Regions from separate parts of the Homo sapiens genome. Here region 2 is linked to region 1. Evidence: fine-mapped expression QTL. Tissue or cell type: lung. Region 1 holds a variant in brackets; the other region holds the start of a gene. All regions are shown on one strand. Distances are from middle to middle.

What was found. PIP is the estimated chance that this variant, and not a neighbour inherited with it, causes the effect.
Region 2: GNAZ starts here. The variant in region 1 is fine-mapped to the expression of GNAZ in lung (TOPMed, PIP above 0.99).

What each region holds. Positions count from the first base shown.
Region 1 is chr22:23,000,890-23,012,159 of GRCh38, forward strand. No RefSeq gene overlaps it. Among named protein-coding and RNA genes, the nearest start is that of GNAZ, 64 kb to the right of the region's middle. The variant T/A (reference allele first, on the strand shown) is at 5,231.
Region 2 is chr22:23,066,504-23,074,503 of GRCh38, forward strand. It overlaps GNAZ (G protein subunit alpha z), which reads left to right and starts at 4,016. Exons shown (of 3, transcript NM_002073.4): 1 at 4,016-4,067. All of the region lies in intron 4 of RSPH14 (radial spoke head 14 homolog), which reads right to left. RefSeq lists silencers at 3,691-3,830, 3,971-4,110 and enhancers at 4,717-5,597, 5,598-6,479.

The sequences.
Region 1 (11,270 bases):
GAGCTGGAGCATCTGGGATGCAGGGAGCAGTGCCTCAAGGCTGCACAAAACAACAGGTCCCTGGGCCTGGCCCACAAAACCATTCTTCCCTTCTAGGCCTCCAGGCATGTGATGGGACAGCTGCCACAAAGGTCTCTAAAATGCCTTCCAGGTATTTTCCCAATTATCTTGGTTATCAACATTTGGTTCCTCTTTACATATGCAAATTTCTGCAGCCAGTTTGAATTCCTCCCAGAAAATGGGTTTTTCTTTTCTACCACATGGCCAGGATGCAAATTTTCCAAACTATTACACTCTGCTTCCCTTTTGAATATAAGTTCCAGTTTCAGATCATCTCTTTACTCACACATAACAAAAGTGGCCTTGGCTCCATTTCTCAATAAGTTCCTCATCTCCACCTGAGACCTCCTCAACCCAGACTTTATTATCCATATCACCATCAGCATTTCGGTCACAACAATTTAACAAGTCTCTAGGAAGTTCCAAACTTGCCCTCACCTTTCTGTCTTCCTTTGAGCCCCCCACACTCTGCCCATTACCCAATTCCAAAGTCACTTCCACATTTTCAGGTATTTTTATAGGAATCCCCCACTTCTCTGGTACCAGTTTTCTCTATTAGTCCATCCTTGCACTGCTATAAAGAAAACTACCCAATAATGGGTGATTTATAAATAAAAGAGGTTTACTTGACTCACAGTTCCACAGACTGTACAAAAAGCATGACTGGGAAGGCCACTGGAAACTTAGGCAGAAGGTGAAGAGGAAGCAAGTATGTCTTACATGGCCAGAGAAGGAGGAAGAGAGACTGAAGGGGGAGGCACTACACACTTTTAAACAACCAGATCTTGTGAAAATTCACTCACTATCATGAGAACAACAAGGGGGAAATCCACCCCCATGATCCAATCACCTCTCACCAGGTCCCTCCTCCAACACTGGGGATTACAATTTGATATGAGATTTGAGCAGGGACACAAACCCAAACCATATCAATCAGTAATAAAAATTCTACCATCAAATCTGAGGACTGGGTGTCTGCACTGCTGAATTCTACCAAAATTCCCAAGAAGGACTAACACCAGTTCTCCTCAAACTATTCCAAAACATTGAAGAGGAAGGAATTCTTCCCAACTCATTATGTGAGGCCAGCATACTCTGGCCAGAGTGTCAGTACTCTGTCTGGTACCAAAACCAGACAGAGACACAATTTAAAAAAAAAAAACAAAAACAACTGCAGGCCAATATCCCTCATGAGATACAAGAATCCACAATAAAATAATAGCAAGCTGAATCCAACAACACATCAAAAAATACACCATAATAGAGCAGGATTTATCTCAGGAATGCAAGGGTTGTTCAACATGCACAAATCAATAAATGTGATACATCCCATCAACAGAATGAAGGACAAAATCTATATGATCATCTCAATAGATGCAGAAAAAGTATTTGATAAATTTCAACATCCCTCCATAATAAAAACTTACATGACAAACCCACAAAAACTTTATACTGTATGAGGAAAAGCTAAAAGCCTTTCCTCTAAGATCTGGAAGAAAAGGAAGCCTACTTTCACTGATCTTATTCAACATAGTACTAGAAGTCCTAGCCAGAGTAATTAGGCAAGAGAAAGGAATATAGGACATCCAATTCGGAAAAGAGGAAGGCAAATTGTCCCTTTTTGCAGACAACATGATCATGTTCATATGTATATGTACATATATACACATATATATATACCTAAAGATTCCACCAAAAATCTCTTAGGGTACAGGTAGTTAGGCATGAGTGGGAGAGGAGAGGGCTCTCCCCCCACACCCACTAGAAATGCTGGGAATGCTGGGTGATGGTTCAGCAATTGTCACATTGCTTCTCTAAAAATGATAATTCAGCAGCGCCAGGGAGAGGCCATTTCCTGATGATCCACACCTGTTAATATCAAAATGTTAACTGAATGCAGACCCCAGGGTAAGCAACTTTCTGGGCATGCATGTTAAGAGTAAAAATGGTGAAGTATGATCTTCCAGGGGCACACTACAACAGAAGAGGGAAGAAAGCCTCAGATGGGCATGTGTATAACCCCCTAAACATACTGTGCAAGCTCAATCCCAAAGGGTAAGGAAAGCACTGGGTACACAGAAAGCCCACTTTAAGGGAAGAATCATGGGAAAGAGGTGAACTTATAAAAGTCCTAGGATCACAGTTAAACAGAGCACTTGACCTTCTCCCTTTAACCTTTAAGGGCCCTCTTCCAAGCGCACTTTCCTTTATTTCCTGTTCTAAGGCCTTTTTGAATAAACCTCCATTTACACACTGGAATTTGCCTTGGTCTCTTTTTCTGCTTTATGCCCCTCAGTGGAATTCTTTCTTCTGAGGTGGCAAGAATTGAAGTTGCTATGGACCCTTATGGATAGGCTGCTGGTAACTCAGGGTAACTCGGACCTCTGCCACTGGTAACATTGGAACTGATAAATTCAGTGATGTTCAGGATATAAAATTAACATACAAAAATCAGTAGCATTTCTATACACCAACAATGAACTAGCTGAAAAAGAAATCAAGAAATTAATTCCACATAGAATAGCTACCAAAAACATAAAATACCAAAGATGACATTTAATCAAGGAGATAAACTATATCTACAATGAAAACTACAAAATGCTAATGAAAGAAATTGAAGAGGACACCAAAAAATGTAAAGATATCCCATGATCATGGATTTTAATGAATATTGTTAAAATAACCATACTACTCAAAGCAATCTACAGATTAAAAGTAAGTCCTATCAGAATACCAACATTCTTTACAGAAATAGAAAAAAAATGATAAAATTTGCATCGAACCAAAGACTTTGTGTAACTAAAGAAATACTGAGAACAAAGGACAAAATTGGAGGCATCACTCTACCTGACTTTAAAATATACTAAAAAGCTATAGTAACCCAAACAGCATCATATTAGTATAAAAATAGACACACACACCAATGGAACAGAATAGAGAACCCAGAAATACATTCACATATTTACAGCCTACTGATCTTTAACAAAGGCATCAACAACATACATTAGAGAGACAACACCCTCTTCAATTAGTGGTGCTGGAAAAACTGGATATCCATATGCAGAAGAATAAAACTAGATCCTTATCTCTCACCATATATGAAAAGCAACTCAAAATGTATTAAAGATTTAAATGTAAGACCTGAAACTATAAAACTAGAAGAAAATATAGGAGAACTGCTTCAGGACATTGGTCTAGACCAAGATTTTATGAGTAACTTCACCACTATGCAATCTATACATGTAACAAAGTTACACTTGTACCTCATAAATTTATACAAATAAACAATTTTATAGGTAAGATTTAATAGGTAAAACTTTATTTTATGGGTAAAGCACAGGCAACAAAAACAAAAATGGACAAATGGGACTATGTCAAACCTAAAAGCTTCTGCACAGAAAAGGAAACAATCAGCAGAGTAAAGAGACAGCCAGTTAAATGGGTGAAAATATTTGCAAACTATTCATCCAACAAAGGACTAATATCCAGAATACACAAGGAACTCAAACAACTCAACAGCAAAAACCCCAAATAATCCAATTTTAAGATTAGCAAAGTATCTGAGTACACATTTCTCAAAAGAGGCCATTTAAATGGTCAAAAGTATACTAAAAATCTTCAACATCACTAACACTCAGGGAAATGCAAATCGAAACCACATCTCACCCCAGTTAGAATGGCAATTATCAAAAAGACACTAGCAAATGCTAGTGAAGAAATGGAGAAAATGGAACTCTTATACACTATTGGTAGGAATGTAAATCAGTACAGCCATCACAGAAAACAGTATGGAAGTTTCTCAAAAAACTAAAAATAGAAATATCACATAATCCAGCAGTTTTGCTACTGGGTATTTATCCAAACAGAAGGAAAGCAGTATGTTGAAGACATACGTACATCTGCACACCCATTTTACTGCAGTGCTGTTCACAATAGCCAAGATAATGAATCAGCCTAAATGTCTATCAAAAAATGAATGGATTTTTTAAATGTGGTATATTTACACACTGGAATACTATCCAGCCAAAAAAAAAAAAGAATAAAGTCTTGTCATTCCCAGCAACATGGATGATCCTGGAGGAAATTATACTAAGAGAAATAAGTCAGAAACAGAAAAATACATATCACATGTTCTCATTTCTATACGGGAATTTAAAAAATTGAGCTGATATAAATGGGAAGAGTGGGCGGTCTGGAGAAGATAGAGGTTGGTTAACAATCTGAAGTTACACAGCTGATGGGAGGAATAAGTTCTAGTGTTCTGTAGCACTATAAGGTAAAGATAGTTAAAAACAATTAGTGTATATGTTTGAGAAGCTAGAGAAGAGAATTTTGAATGTCCACAACACAAAGAAGTATTACATGTTCAAGGTGATCATTATGCTAATTGCCTTTATTTTATCATTCCATATTGTATACATGTATTAAAATATTATTCTGTATCCCATAAACATATACAATTATTACGTGTCAATTAAAAATAAAAGAAAAAAGTAAAACTAGTCTAGCTAGAGACTGGGAGAAAATATTTGTAAAACAAAAATTAATTCAAGATGGATTAAAGACTTAAATGTCAGCCCTAAAACCATAAAAACCCTAGAAGAAAACCTAGGCAATACCATTCAGGACATAGGCATGGGCAAAGACTTCATGTTTAAAACACCAAAAGCAATGGCAACAAAAGCCAAAATTGACAAATGGGATCTAATTAAACTAAAGAGCTTCTGCACAGCAAAAGAAACTATCCTCAGAGTGAATAGACAACCTACAGAATGGGAGAAGATTTTTGCAATCTACCCATCTGACAAAGGGCTAATGTCCAGAATCTACAAAGAACTTAAGCAAATTTACAAGAAAAAATCAAACAACCCCATCAAAAAGTGGGCGAAGGATATGAACAGACACTTCTCAAAAGAAGACATTTATGCAGCCAAAAGACACATGAAAAAATGCTCATCATCACTGGCCATCGGAGAAATGAAAATCAAAACCACGATGAGATACCATCTCACACCAGTTAGAATGGCAATCATTAAACCTCTGGGGACTGTTGTGGGGTGGGGGGAGAGGGGAGAGATAGCATTGGGAGATATACCTAATGCTAGATGACGAGTTAGTGGGTACAGCGCACGAGCATGTCACATGTATATATATGTAACTAACCTGCACA[T/A]TGTGCACATGTACCCTAAAACTTAAAGTATAAAAAAAAAAAGTCAGGAAACAACAGGTGCTGGAGAGGATGTGGAGAAATAGGAACACTTTTACACTGTTGGTGGGACTGTAAACTAGTTCAACCATTGTGGAAGACAGTGTGGCTATCCCTCAAGGATCTAGAACTAGAAATACCATTTGACTCAGCCATCCCATTACTGGGTATATACCCAAAGGATTATAAATCATGCTGCTATGAAGACACATGCACATGTATGTTTATTGTGGCAGTATTCACAATAGCAAAGACTTGGAACGAACCCAAATGCCCATCAAGGGTAGACTGGATTAAGAAAATGTGGCACATATACACCATGGAATACTATGCAGTCATAAAAAAGATGAGTTCATGTCCTTTGCAGGGACATGGATGAAGCTGGAAACCATCATTCTGAGCAAACTATCTCAAGGACAGAAAACCAAACACTGCATGTTCTCACTCATAGGTGGGAATTGAACGATGAGAACACTTGGACACAGAAAGGGGATCATCACACACCGCAGCCTGTCATGGGGTGGGGGGAGGGGGGAGGGATAGCATTAGGAGATATACCTAATATAAATGATGAATTAATGGGTGCAGCACACCAACATGGCACATGTATACATATGTAACAAACCTGCACGTTGTGCACATGCACCCTAGAACTTAAAGTATAATAAAAAAAATAAAAAATAAAATATTTGTAAAACATATTTACAATAAAACACTTATATCCAGAATCTGTACATATTTAAAACTTGTAACTCAGTTAAGAAGAAGGTTTGAACAGATGTTTAACCAAAAGATATATACAAATGGCAAATAATTAAAAGGTTATTAATCATTAGGGAAATGCTAATTCAAATAAGATACCAAGCTGGGCATGGTGTCACACGCCTATAGTCCCAGCTACTTGGGAGGCCAAGGTGGGAGGACTGATTGAGCCCAAGAGCTCAAGGCCAGTTGGAGCAACAGAACAAGACACCATTTCTAAACTAAGTAAATAAATAAGATACCACTACACACTCTATTTTGTATTCTTTATGAGCCAGTCAGATGGGTTGGGTGCAGCCACAGGAGGAGACATAGAAGCTCAGAAAAAAAAAGTTTATTATACTCACAGGTCCTAGAGACAGGAGGCATGGCATGCCATGCAGGACCACATGGGAAAGACATCAGGTGGTCAGGAGGAAAAAGACAAAGGGAAGGGTTGGGATACTGCCTTTATTGAGGCTTCTGCAGAAAAGGCAAGGCAGTGCAGAATGAACAGTTTACTTTGTTATGGCAGCCCTAGCAAAGATATAAGTAGTAAGTGTGAAACAGCTTGGGAAGCTTGGGACCTTGCTAAAAAAGTAAGCCATCTACGATTTAGAGCCAAATCAAAGGTGAAAATAATAAAAGCTACAGGTATTTAGAAGAAGAGGGCATATGGTTCTTGTGAAGTCCCCAGGTAAGTCTTGATAAAGCAGGTAGAATTTGAGATAGAACTTAAAATAGACATGTTTGAGGTCAGTGGACAAGAACATATGAGAATAGTCAGGATAGAAAGTGGAACAATATTCATTAGTATCTATTCACCTACCATGAGCCAGGCACTGAGCTATGGTCCAGGAATATAGTGAACAAAAAGGGCATGGTTCTTGTCGTCTTGGTGTGCACAGCCTGAGATACAGCAGGATTGTATGGGACACCAGCATGCACACCGGCAGTGTTGGCACAGGACAAGTCACAGAGCTGTGTAGTCAGGACCTGTCTCTCTTGAACACTGGCTATCTTTGTACTATGTGATTAAGCACTTGATTTTGCTCTATGATTATTCCATAAAAGGGATTTGTCATCATTACCATTCTCAGCTGGATTTTCTTCTGCATCAAATATTGCACAAGAAGCTGGATTCCAAACTCCTGGGAGACAGTGGTGTTTATTCTCCTTTCTTATTTCTCCCATCTTAACAGATGCCAGGGGCAGTGACTCCCCATCTTGAATTCTTGGGCTACTCCCAGAATCAGCCATGTCTCTAACAACCAGAACTTGTGAGCAAGACTCATCCCCCTGGGTCTGCCTCTTCAGCACTCACTGTTGATGGTGACTTGTCTCATTGCTTGTACAGGTGGTGACAGTGCCAGAATATTTCAAGAATAGGTTTGGTAGCTATCAGAGTGAGATCCTTCTCTCCATTCTGTATTTATTCCTCTGTATCTTCAATAAGATACCAGTGAGTTGTGTAAAATCCAGCCCAAGAAACAGAACCAAGAAAAAAAAGCAAGAGGCAGGACTCAAGATTATGCTGGATTTGTCCCAGCGATTTACTCTGGGTCCTCTAAATTACTTGTTGGCCTTTGTTGTGAAGCCAGAGTAGAAAAAAATGACTTCACATTCACAAAAAATAAAAGAAGCATCTTCTTTACCTCCCAAGCCTAGGTTACAGGTCCCTCCTCTGTATTCCCAGGAACCTTGGGCTTACCCATCTCATATCAGTAGGTCATGTGCTTAAAAGAATCCAGGAATTTTCACCACCTGTACAAAACTTAAACTTGTTCTGGCTTTTAAAGGCTGTCCTGCGGAAGCCCCAGTCTACCTTTCTAAATGGATCTCCTTATTTCCTAATGGTTACACACTGTGCTCTAGTCACACTGCTTGCCTCATTGATTCTCAAGTCCAGCAAGCTTATTCCAAATCAAAACCCTCTAGACTTGCTCTGTACTGTGTCTGGAATGTTCTTCCCTCAGATCTTGCATGGCTAACTCCTTGTATTATTCCTTGAAAGAAAAATAGCACTTCCTTGAAGGGGCCTTCCAAGGATGCACCCAATTCATCTCTACTCCATTACTCAGGTCTTGGTTTTTGTCTTTAATTAGAGACAGGGTCTTGCTATGTTGCCCAGGCTGGAGTGCAGTGGCTATTCATAAATGTGATCATCATTCACTGCTGCGGCAGGCCAGGTCTCACTAACGCAGGCCTCTGTAACAACTGTTTCAGCACTGACTGAGTGGTTAAGTTAAATATTAAAAGCTGATAGAGCCAGTGCTCTAATACAAATGCTGGAATGTAACAAAGGCTCACCAAGAGTTTTGTCCAGGCCTTTCCTGGGCCTTGAAGCATGATGAGATAAAAAAGGAATTCTTAAAAGGACCCATTTAGAATTAAGCAAGTTTCATTGGGGGTCTGAAGAAACCCCCCAGGTCTCCACAAACAAGTTTATTGGAGGTCTGCAAGAACTCATCAAACCTCCATGATTTAGCAGGAGACAAGATAAGGGTAATTGCCCCAGCACCTGGGCCCATTTAGATTAAGAAAATTTACTAAGGCTCCAGAGGAAGGTCTTCAGGACTCAGATCTCAGTTACAGAATAAAAGTTAGCACTTATGTCTTTAGATAAATGCACACTTACACGTAGACATATAGCTTAGAAGGCACATAAGTTCTAGAAAACTGTAATTTTGAGTTAGTCCAAATTTTGATAATTTCCAGGCCTTCTCCCTGTAACCAGTTACATAAATAAAAAACTCTTCTTTCCCAGTTCATCTGCATCTCATTATTGGGCCACGAGAGTAAGCAGCCTGATCCTCGTTTTGGTCTAGGAACACTTGAACTTGAACTCCTGGGCTCAAGCAATCCCCCTCCTGAGCCTCCCAAGAAGCTGTGATTATAGGTGTGCACCACTGCACCCAGCTTCACTGCTGTTTTTATTTTCTGTGAAATGCCTGCCACCATGTGAAAGCAATTTATCTGCTTGCTTATCTGGCTTCTCCACTTCAGTGCAAGCTTCCTGAGACCAAGGGCCTCCTGCCTTGTTCACTGCGTTACCTTCCCCCTGTACTGAGAACATGTTTAGCACATAAGGTACTTCATAAATGTTTTCTGAATAACTGGAATAGTGGCACTTATCACACTGCATAGAAAATGCCTATTTTGTGGTTTGTCTCCATTAAACATAAGCTCTTGAGGATGGCAACTGAGTTTTGGTAACTTGTGTCTTCTGAACACTGCTGAGTGTCTATGACATGGTTGGCACTCAGTAAGTAGTTAGTGAATAAATGGATAGATGAATCTGTCCATTTTATCCCTGGCTTTGGAGATCAGAATAACAAAGCAAGGGGTTATCCAGTTAAATGATGTGCAGATGTTTCAAAATCAGTGTCAACTGAGCCAGGGGTCAACAAATCTGGTCAGCAGGCCAATCTGGATAATGATGGGCTTTGTGCAGCTCTGAAGCTAAGAATGATTTTTATAGTTTTAAAAGGTTGTAAAAAAAAAAAAAAAAAAAAAAAGAGAGATGGTATGTGACCAGCAAACTTGCCTTTACAGGAAAAGTTTGCTGATCCCTGAGAAGTCATTCCCGTTCCCTTTTTCCAGTGGTGGAACTGTAAAAACAACTAACTCTCTGAACTAATTCCCTCTCTGAAGCTCCAGAGTGGAAGAGGCTAAGTTGTGCCACTGGAAGAATGGGGTTAACTCAAGCCCTAAAAGTACTAACCTTGGCTGAACTCATGGGGCACAAGCCTATGCTCAACAAAACGGATGAACCTTACCCAGTGTCCACTGGTGATGTAGTGCTATTCAGATACCACCTCTGGTAGATGGCTTCTAAGGTCAGTGTCTTTGTGGAATCACTGTGGATTCAGTTGGAAGTGAAAGTGCAGCCTGCTGACTCCGTATTCATTTCAGTTGGAGGTTTGCTCTTCTGCCGTGTTCATGAAGATAGTTTAGGAAATGGGTGTTTAACTGATCACAATCTCGCTGAAAATTGCTGGCATTCATACCATCTCAGGTGAGGTTACTCTAACCACACAAGTACTTACATTGGCACACTCTACTTAGTGGATGACAGAGAAGTCATTCTACCTAAAGATAGAGAAGTCTATCTCTGTGAATGACAGAGATGTCATTCTACCTAACATCTCTGCAGTTTGTAGAAAAACTCTTTATAGAGTTTGTAGACATTGAAGCAGCAGTCTCCAGCTTTTGCACTTACCCTAAGTCTGTAAATGACATTGCTAAGACCTGAGGAGACTGAACAATGAAAAGAACAGAGACGGGGGGCCTAAGTAGTGTCCTCCCACTAGAAATCAGCTTGGGCTGGCTGGGTCCCTCCCAGGGGTCTGACAGGGACAACAGCGATTATGTCTGCGGTGGGGAGGGACACTGCAGGCCACCAGGTAAAAGACTGGGAGCACAGAAGACAAATGATGGGGAGGCAGCAGCCATGGGCCACCTGGTCAGGCCTGATCAGATGGAATCTTTTGTAGGGGCAGTTCTGTCCTAGGCAGCTACTGCCTAGGTTCTGAGAGTGGAAGCTCTCACCACTCCTTCTTTCCAGCAACAGTGCAAATCTCAGATGCTGGGTGTTTCCCTGGCAGTTCACCAGAGACCAAGGGGAAAGAATCAAAGTGAGGCACAGAATGCCCTCAATCAGTGGTTCACAGTGCAGAGGAGTGGGAATTGGATTTTTCTTCCCAGAGGGCACTTGGTAATGTTTGGAGGCATTCTGGGTTGTCACAGCTGGGCCAGGGGGAGCTCTGCTGGCTGTTAACTGTTGCTTCCAGGTCAGGTGCAGTGGCTCATGCCTATAATCCCAGCACTTCAGGAGGCTGAGGCAGGAGGATCCTTTGAGCTCAGGAGTTTGAGACCAGTGTGGGCACCATGGCAAACTCTGTCTCTACAAACATTTTTAAAATTAGCCAGGTGTGATGACACACACCTGTAGTCCCAGCTACTCAGGAGGCTGTGGGAAGACTGCTTGAGCCTGGGAGATCCAGGCTGCAGTGAGCTATGATCATGCCATTGCACTCCACCCTGTCTTAAAAAATAATGATAAAAATTTTTAAGAAAGGGAATTAAAGGGAAATTAGGAAATTGTGACACAGAAGGGCAAGATAAGAATCCAACAAGAGATCATGAAGGACATTAAAGAGAGAAAACAGGATGGACTAAAACTAAGCATAAGTCACTCACTGAATTAAAGAGATCAAGCGCCTGAATGTGGAGAACTGGGGGTGTGGTGGGGAGTATACAG
Region 2 (8,000 bases), 64 kb after region 1:
AAATGCTTAGCACAGGGACCGGGGTTCATTTTGAGACAGAGGGAGAAGATTAAAAATAAAACGCGTGCCGGGTGTGCCTTTCTGCTCGTTCACTTTGCTTCTTTTCAGCTAAAAGAAGAGTCTCGGGCCTGGCTATTTATAACTAACCCAGATCTGCGATGGCTTGCTCAAGTGGGGGTGGGGCACACAGACCCCAGGGAAACAATCGGGGAAATCCACCCAACTGGGCGGCAGCCTGAGCGTCCGCTGGGGGTGGGGGGTGGTTGCAGAAGAGGTAGGACAGGTGGGGCACAGAGAATCAGCCAGATGGGGTGGCACCAGAGCAGGCCAGGCTCTGGGCCATCCATGGTTTAGAGACAAGCAACATATGCCCACCCCACCCCCGGGAAGTGGGAAAACTAGTGGAATAGTCAGCTGGGGACAGGTCACTACAGAACAGGTTGACATGTGTGTAGACCAGGAATTCCAGGGTCCTAGGGGCTCTGGAGGTGCACAAAGGGAGGCCCCGGGGAAGCTGGTTCTCATGGATGTGGAGGAGAGCCCAGAACAGCAGGGCTCAAATGTATGTGTTTGTGGGGAGTCCCCGATCTGGCCTGGCTGATATGTAGGGGCTAGGATGGGTTCAGTGGTTGATGAGCCAAAGAGATCCAATGGGATTGAGGGGTCACGGATGTCCATGGTGTGGAGCCCCAGTGGTGGAGTCTGGGTCATTTTCTTTGTGGTGGGGCAGGGCGGGTGCTGACACCATGTTGAGGGGCCACTCCTCAGCCAGCTGTGCCTGCTGGGTTGGGGAGGTGCTGAGTGGGCTCAGTCACCACCATGGCCCCCTTCCTCTGGCTACAGCAAAGCCCCAGCTGTTGTCTCCCAGCCAATGAGGGCTCAGGACAGAGCACCAGCACCCAGGTTCTGGTCGCAGCCACACCCTTTCCTGTTAGGGGACTGCACATCCACACATGGCATCTGGGGCCCACCTTGCCGCAGGTGACCCACCTGTCCAGCTTTAGCCTTGCATGGCCCTGTGCCCTGAACTCCTGGCCCACTGGGCCTGCCTTTGCTCCAAGGGGTGCTTCTCTGTCCTCAGCTTTCTCGGCTTCCAGGTAGCTGGGAGCATGGTTAACAGCTTCTTCCTTTACCACATGCTCTCTTCCCGTGCCTCTGGTACCCTCCATTCTCTGGTTCCTGACCACCTCCCCAACTGCTCCTCCATCTTTTTGGTAAGCACCATCTCTTCCTCCAGTGGTCCCCACCCTCTCCCCTTCTCTCATCTCCCTGGGTCCTGATAATGCCCCGCCACTGTCTCCTAACATGCTCTTGGTCTCCCTGCCATCTCACAGCCACAGCAGACCGTACACTGAACTCAGCCTCACAGACTGACTTCTGTGCTCACTCCCACTTCCTCTGGACTGACTAACTGATGTTTTTGTTATTTTATTATGTCCAGTAGGACAACTCACATTGTCTGTGGGACCACGCCTACTGTAAACAGGCAATTAAAAACTTCTCCTCCTCCTTCTCAAATTTAAAAGACTAATGTTAAAACTCTCGAGCAGTTCTTAGGCCAACGTCCCTGATCCTACTGCCCCAAGCTGGCATCTGTGCATGGGCAACGACCCTGGCCCCAGCCACACTGGTCTTCTCTGGGTTCTTCCTGGCCTCGTGCTCCTTCATGTCCTGCACCGTCCCCGCCTTGGAACTCACTTCCCTCCCACCCTATGTCACTGGCCACCTCCACGCCTGCTATGGCCTCATTCCAAGCATCTCTTCCTTTGGGAAGCTGGCCCAATGCCCAATGCTCCCCCACTCCACATGCCCCCAGAGCCCCAGTGGGTCTCCTCAGATAGCCTCACATGACTGTAAGGCCCAATCGTTGTTTGCTTTCTGCCCCTGCCCTACAGGCAGAGGGTCTGCCAGAAAAGGGCCGGTCTGAATCCTAGAACTGTGCCTACAACTATACCCTGGTGGAGGAGGCTATCTGTAAGTGACTGCTGCATGAATACAATATTGGTTTGATGCCAGGTGAGATGTCCCTCTCTTACTTTGAGGTCAAGTCAGGGAGGTGTCAGCCAGCCCCAGTGGACCCCTCCGCAGGCTAGCCTCTGCTCTGGACCACTGGAAAGGGCCATCTCACTGTTGCATGTGGGCTTACCTCTGCAAACAATTCAACTCTGACCCCCAGACTCTGCAGTGGAAACAGCCTCTGGCTATCCCAAGACATGCTAATATGCATTTCCTATAAACATTAACCCTCAGAGCCACCCTCTGACCACAGTCTGTTACATTCCCTTTTGACAGAAGAGGAAACAGAGGCTCAGCCAGGTAGCACAGCTGCCGGTCTCTGTGTGGTCCTCCTGGCAAGAGGTCCAGCCTGACACAGCCTGGTGGTGTGGAAGGCAAGCACAAAGGGTAGCTAGCCCCTCAGCCATTGGCTGAATTCCCTTGGTCCTCACTGGACACCTCCAGTGAGCACTAAGTTCGCCTCCATGATGCCCATAACAAATATACGTCCTGTTCCTGACAGTTGAGGCAGCACCCTCACAGGTGGCCCATGACCCTGCAGGTACGTAACGCAATGGTCTCCATCTCACAGAAGAGGAAACATTCCTAGGGAGGTTATGGGATGATGCTGAGATGCCACAGTGTCCAGCTGGCAAAGCCAGGCACATGCCCCTGCCCCTCCACCACAGAGCTATGATGGAGAGACCGCTCCATGGACCTCTGCCATGGTCAGGTCCAGGGCTGCTGCTCAAAGAATGGCATGATCCACACCTTACAAAGGTGTGAGGTGATAAGGAACGCGTTAGCTGGGAAGGCATTTGCACTTTGTCAGGGATGCTCTAGGATACACAAAGCTTCAGATTTACAAAGATGGAGAAGAGAGACAGGAGCATTCATGTCTTGGCCCTCTGGCTTGAGAGTCTTTTAAGCATGGAACTGAGGGACTCCTGGCCCTGAGGTCCACAGATAGGCTTTGAAATTGAAAACAGAATTTTGCAGCCTGGGTTCAGCTGCGTTTTGCTGAGGGTCTGATGCTTTCCACCAGCTTCCCAAAAGCGCCAATCAGTGGCCTTAACTGAACTGGCTCTCTCACGCTTGTCTGGGCTGGGGGCCAGCTCCTCGGTCCTTCTCCCTTCCTTCCCTCCCAAGGCCACCCTTCCGTGTGCCAGGATTGCCAGGGACGCCAAAGAGCCCCTAGACACTGGGCGGTGGCGGCGGGGGGCGGCGGCAGAGATGACTAATGCTCCCTCCCATCGCTGCACAAACCTCACCGGTGTAAATCGTTAGGGTTTGCATAGGCCTTTCACACGTTCTGAAGGATTGGTGAGACAATCCAGGAAAGCAGGTGCCACTAGCCCCACTTTGCAAACAGAAAGGCTGAGAGAGGTCAGTCGGTTGCCCAAGGACGTAGAGCTCACAAGAGGCCGAACTGGGTTTGAACCCGAGTGGAGAGAAGGCGAGCCGGGACTGGCTGCAGTAAAGAGGGCCAGGACCATGGCTGGGCTCAGGCTTGGTTTCCCGGGCTGCCAGAGGTGGCCCCTGGGGCTCGGCTACCAGGCCTCAGCGCAGCGGAGTCGGTGGAACGCCGGCGCGGGGAGCTCTTGCGGGACTGCGGCGCGCGCGGAGCTGCGACCCCGCCCCTGTCCGTCCCCATTGGGCTACTGGCCCGTCCGTCAGCTGCCTGTGCCCAATGGACAGAGGGCCGGCGCTCGTGGCGGGGCGGAGGTGCCCGGCGCGTGGTGCCCGGCGGGCGCGCGGCACCCCCCCGCCCGCGGTTGGCCTGGCAACGGGCTGCGCTCGCGGCTCCGCCCCCTGCCGGCGGCGGCGCGGCGCGGGGCGGGCGGACCCGCGGACTGGCGGCGGGCGGCGGGCGGCGGGCGGCGCGGGAGGGCGGGCGGAGGGAACCAGGCCGGCCGGAGCGTGTGCGCCGCCCGCGGTCCGGTCACGTCCCCGCGTGGGCGCCGCTGCCCGCGTCGTACGGAACGAGGGCGCCGCGGCCCCGTGCTCGCCGCCCCGCCCCGCCCCGCCCTGCCCGGAGCAGCTCGGCAGATGCTCTGTGCTGCGGCCCGGAGGTGAGTGAGCCGACCCGCGGCCGGCCGCGCGCCGCTGAGCCTCAGGGGTCGGGGGCACGGCCGGGGCATCCACCTTGCCCCCACTTGGGACTCTTCCCAGGCCTTTGTGCCCCGGATCCGCCAGGACGCAGCGTCAGGGATGCCCCTCAGGGGTGGGGGACACCAAGGGCGGGGACGCCTGCGAGGTGGGCAGGGGGCGGCCTCTGGTCGGGCAGGTGCTGGGGGAGGGATGCGCCGCCAAGCCGATGACCCCGCGGGAGGGGGCGGTTGAGGACCCGGGAGGGTGGACAGAGGGCGCCGGGGATGCCGCGCGGGGCCGCCGGGCGCCCCCAAGCAGCGGCTGATGCGGAGCCCGGGCGGGCCAGGCGAGCTGCGGGAGCGGCGCTGAGGCGGGTCTCCCTAGGGGGAGGATCAGGGAGGGGCGGCCGGAGCCGATGCAGGGCCTTGCCTGAAACCGAGGAGAGGGCCCCAGAGGCCTGGGCCCGAGGACCTGGGCCCGCAGACGGACAGCTAGCAGTTCTCGGTCACTGCTCTTGCAGCGAGCAGGTTCCTCACAGGCATTTAGAGGAAGAGATGAGTATCGACCTGCTGCGATTGTAATACGTTCCCGGCTCAATATTTTTTCCCTTAAAAGGCGGTGGGGGTGTTTGGGGGAGGGGAGTGAGGGCCTCAGGGCTGGCGCTCCGTATCCTGCGGGCGATCCGAGGGGGCTCTGCCTTTAGGGCGGTGCTGAGCCTTCCTGGGTGATGATGGCAGGATTCGGCCTAGGCCGAGAATGGGGGCTCCTGTTAACTGAGACAAGAGGATGATGCCAAGCGAGACCAGCGTTCCGCGTAGTCCGTGTTGGGGTGGAGGGACCCGCCTGGTAGAGAGGTCTGTCTTGCTTGGGGAGACAGCTGAGCCCCTGACCGGCTCCTTTCTGCCCAAGTGATTTCCCTGCCCTGGGGATTGAGCTCTCTGGAGAAGGCTCCTTGGCCAAATTCAATTAAGCAAATATTTATTGAGTGGTCACTCCCCCAGAGCTTGACGCTGGGGTGCACCGGGTGGGAGTGGACTGGGCCTGCCCTCCCAGGACTGATTGACCACCGCATAGGGGAAAACGTCTCTACTCGACCAACCCCGCTTGAGTGCAGGTGCAGGGGCCTCGGGAGGGACCTCAGAGTGGTGTCCTGGGCTGGGGGGTCAGGTGAGCTCGTGGGCAACATGACATTTGAACTGGAGCTTGAAGGACATGGGCACAGCTAAGCTGGGCATTGTGGGCAGAGAGGAGAGAATAGACCGAGGCACTTGGGCAGTTAGGTCTGATGGGAGCACTTAGCATGCCTGGGGAGTAGGAGGAGGTATGGCGGGAAAGGCCGGTGGGGGCTGCACGGGGCTGAGGGAGCTGGGAAGTGGAATGACCCCACTGCTGGTTAACTGTGGCTATGGTGGAGACCACGGCTTCCTCATCTGTAAAAGCGAAGCAGTTCCATGACCCCATGAGCTGGGGTGGGCCTGGAGAAGAGCTAGCTTTAAAGACTGGGGAAGGCTCCTTGCAGTCTGAGACTGTGCTTCCAGGCACTTCTCCCTCGGGCACAGCCAGGGCACTGGGTAACCACCCAGGCAACCCCCTTGTTAGGATTGAGTTGCCTGTTTCGGGGATGATGCTTAGCTAGTGACTCTGTGCCTCTGGGATGTGGATGTTTGAGAGCAGTAATCGTGGCAGCCTGGGAGCATCCATCTACGGGGTGCAGTGGGGGTGTGGATGGCCTGGCGGTGCTTGGATAAAATATGCGCCTTGAGCAAGCCTCATTCTCTAGGAATGAGGAGATGCTGGCATCTGGTTTAAAAGTCTTCCTGTGTGTTCCTCTAACTGACGTTGATTTTCTGAGACAGGAGGTGAATAAGACATAATTTCTCCCCCTCGGAAATTGGTGTCACTTTCCCCCCTAAGTCAGCTCCCTCATTTCTGGGGATGTTTTTGCTCTCCCTCTGAAGGGGCTGTTTGTTACTCATCTTTGTAGTGTGCCTACCCTCCCCACCCAACACACACTTGGCTTTGGCCAAGGCCCAGGTTGATGCAGCGAGAACAGGGCCTGCCCTCGTGGGGTGTGCAGTCTGTGCTGAGCAGGGTGAGCTGCTGTGCTCTGTGCCTGTCGCCTGGACTGTTGCAGGGACCTGGCATGTGACTGTGGGTTTGGGACACAGGGAATGGATTCTTCCCTCTGTCCCCAGCCTCTCAGTCCTTTTGTTTTCTAGAATCTCAGGAGGAACCTCAGAGACCTGGAGGCCCCACCAGAGTGGCCAGAACCTGGTGCAGGAGTATGGGTGGGGTCTCAGTCTGGCCCTCAGGAGCTTCTAGAACAATTCCAGGAATTTGCAGGTAACTGGATTGACTTCACAAGGGCTGCCCAGGGCCCCCGCAGAGAGGCCAGTGGGACAGGAATGCTGAATATAGCAATTCAGGAATGCTGAATTTAGTCATCTTGTGTGTGAACACATGTGTGCGGCTTCCTCCCCTGGAGGCAAGGAAGGCAGCCCTGTGCTGTCTGTCCCACGCTAGCCTCAGAATACTTAAGACGGTGTGTGGTGGCAAAGGCACTCTCACTGCTGCTGACCATGGCAGGTGCACGGGCACACTGGAGGAGGCAGGTCAGCATGCTGCTCTCCCGAACCCTCCAGCAAGGAAACCTGGGGTAGCCAAGCCTCTGAGCACCTGTGAGCACTGTGCTTGGCTGGAAGGAGCACAAAGCGAAATGAACAGAGGCGTCAGTGCAGATGCCAAGGGTCAGCCCCAGGCAGAATCCCAGAGCAGAGGCTATGCTGCGGCCTGGGCAGAATGAAGAGGGACGTGGGAGCACCCAGACTGTTGTGGCTCCGGGGTGGTGAGGTGAGCATTCCAGTCTAGGTGGCAGAAGACCTGGAGTCAGGTCCTGGTCCCACCATCCTAGGTCCAGCCCCTTTTTCTCTGAACCTCATTATCCTCATCCATACCCAAAGCCAAGAGTGCCCTGCCCTGTCCCCACACCAGCCCCTGCCACACATTTTGGCCCTTTCGTGCGAACACCGCCAGGGGAGGCGCTTCACAGGATTGAACCAACAGGGACCGCTTGACAGATCCTAGAGCACATAGGAGGAGACATCAGCCCTCTGGACTGAGCCGGAGGAGCAGAACCTCACGCGATTCATCCATTCATTTGTTCAGCTAACATTTACCAGCGCCTGCTGCATGCCAGGCACTGTGCCAGGTGCAGGGGTACAGCAGGGACGTAGCATCCACTCACAGTGCTCACACCAGACGGGCAGGGGTTGACAGTAACACATGTTACTAAGTGCTGCACTGTGGAGAACACTAAAGCAGAAGGTGGGGGACACGAGATGGGGGTGGGGGACTGACACAGTGCCATGCAGAAGTGCTGGGTGAGTGGTGTGGCTGAGCAGGGGAGAGACAGCAGGTGCAAAGGCGCTGAGCAGACACTCCCTGGCCCCTGGAGGCCCCACCAGAGTGGCTGGAACCTGGTGCAGGAGTGTGGGTGGGGTGTCAGGGCCAGGTCCTGCAGGACTCAGTGGGCCCCAATGAGGCAGGAAGACCTTGGCAGGGTTGGAGCAGAGAAGAGACTGGAGCTGCCCTCCCAGGAGGAGCTAATCTACACTTTGAAAAGATCTCTCTGCTGAGGTGGGAAAATAGGCTAGGGTGGGGTAAGGCTGGGGGCCATGAGGGGCTACTGCAACATCCCAGGCAGAGAGGCTGCTGACCCAGGGGTGGGAGCTCTGGAGGCCCTGAGAAATGCAGGTGGGAGATTTGTTTTTTTAAAGCTGCAGCTTTTAAAGGACAGCTGCAGTTTTGGTCTGAACCAGTAGAAAGATGGAGCTGGTATTGGCTGAGAAGCAAGATACAGAAAAACCCATTCTGGAGAGGTGGGGAATTAGGAGGTGGGTCTGAGACCTGGAGAG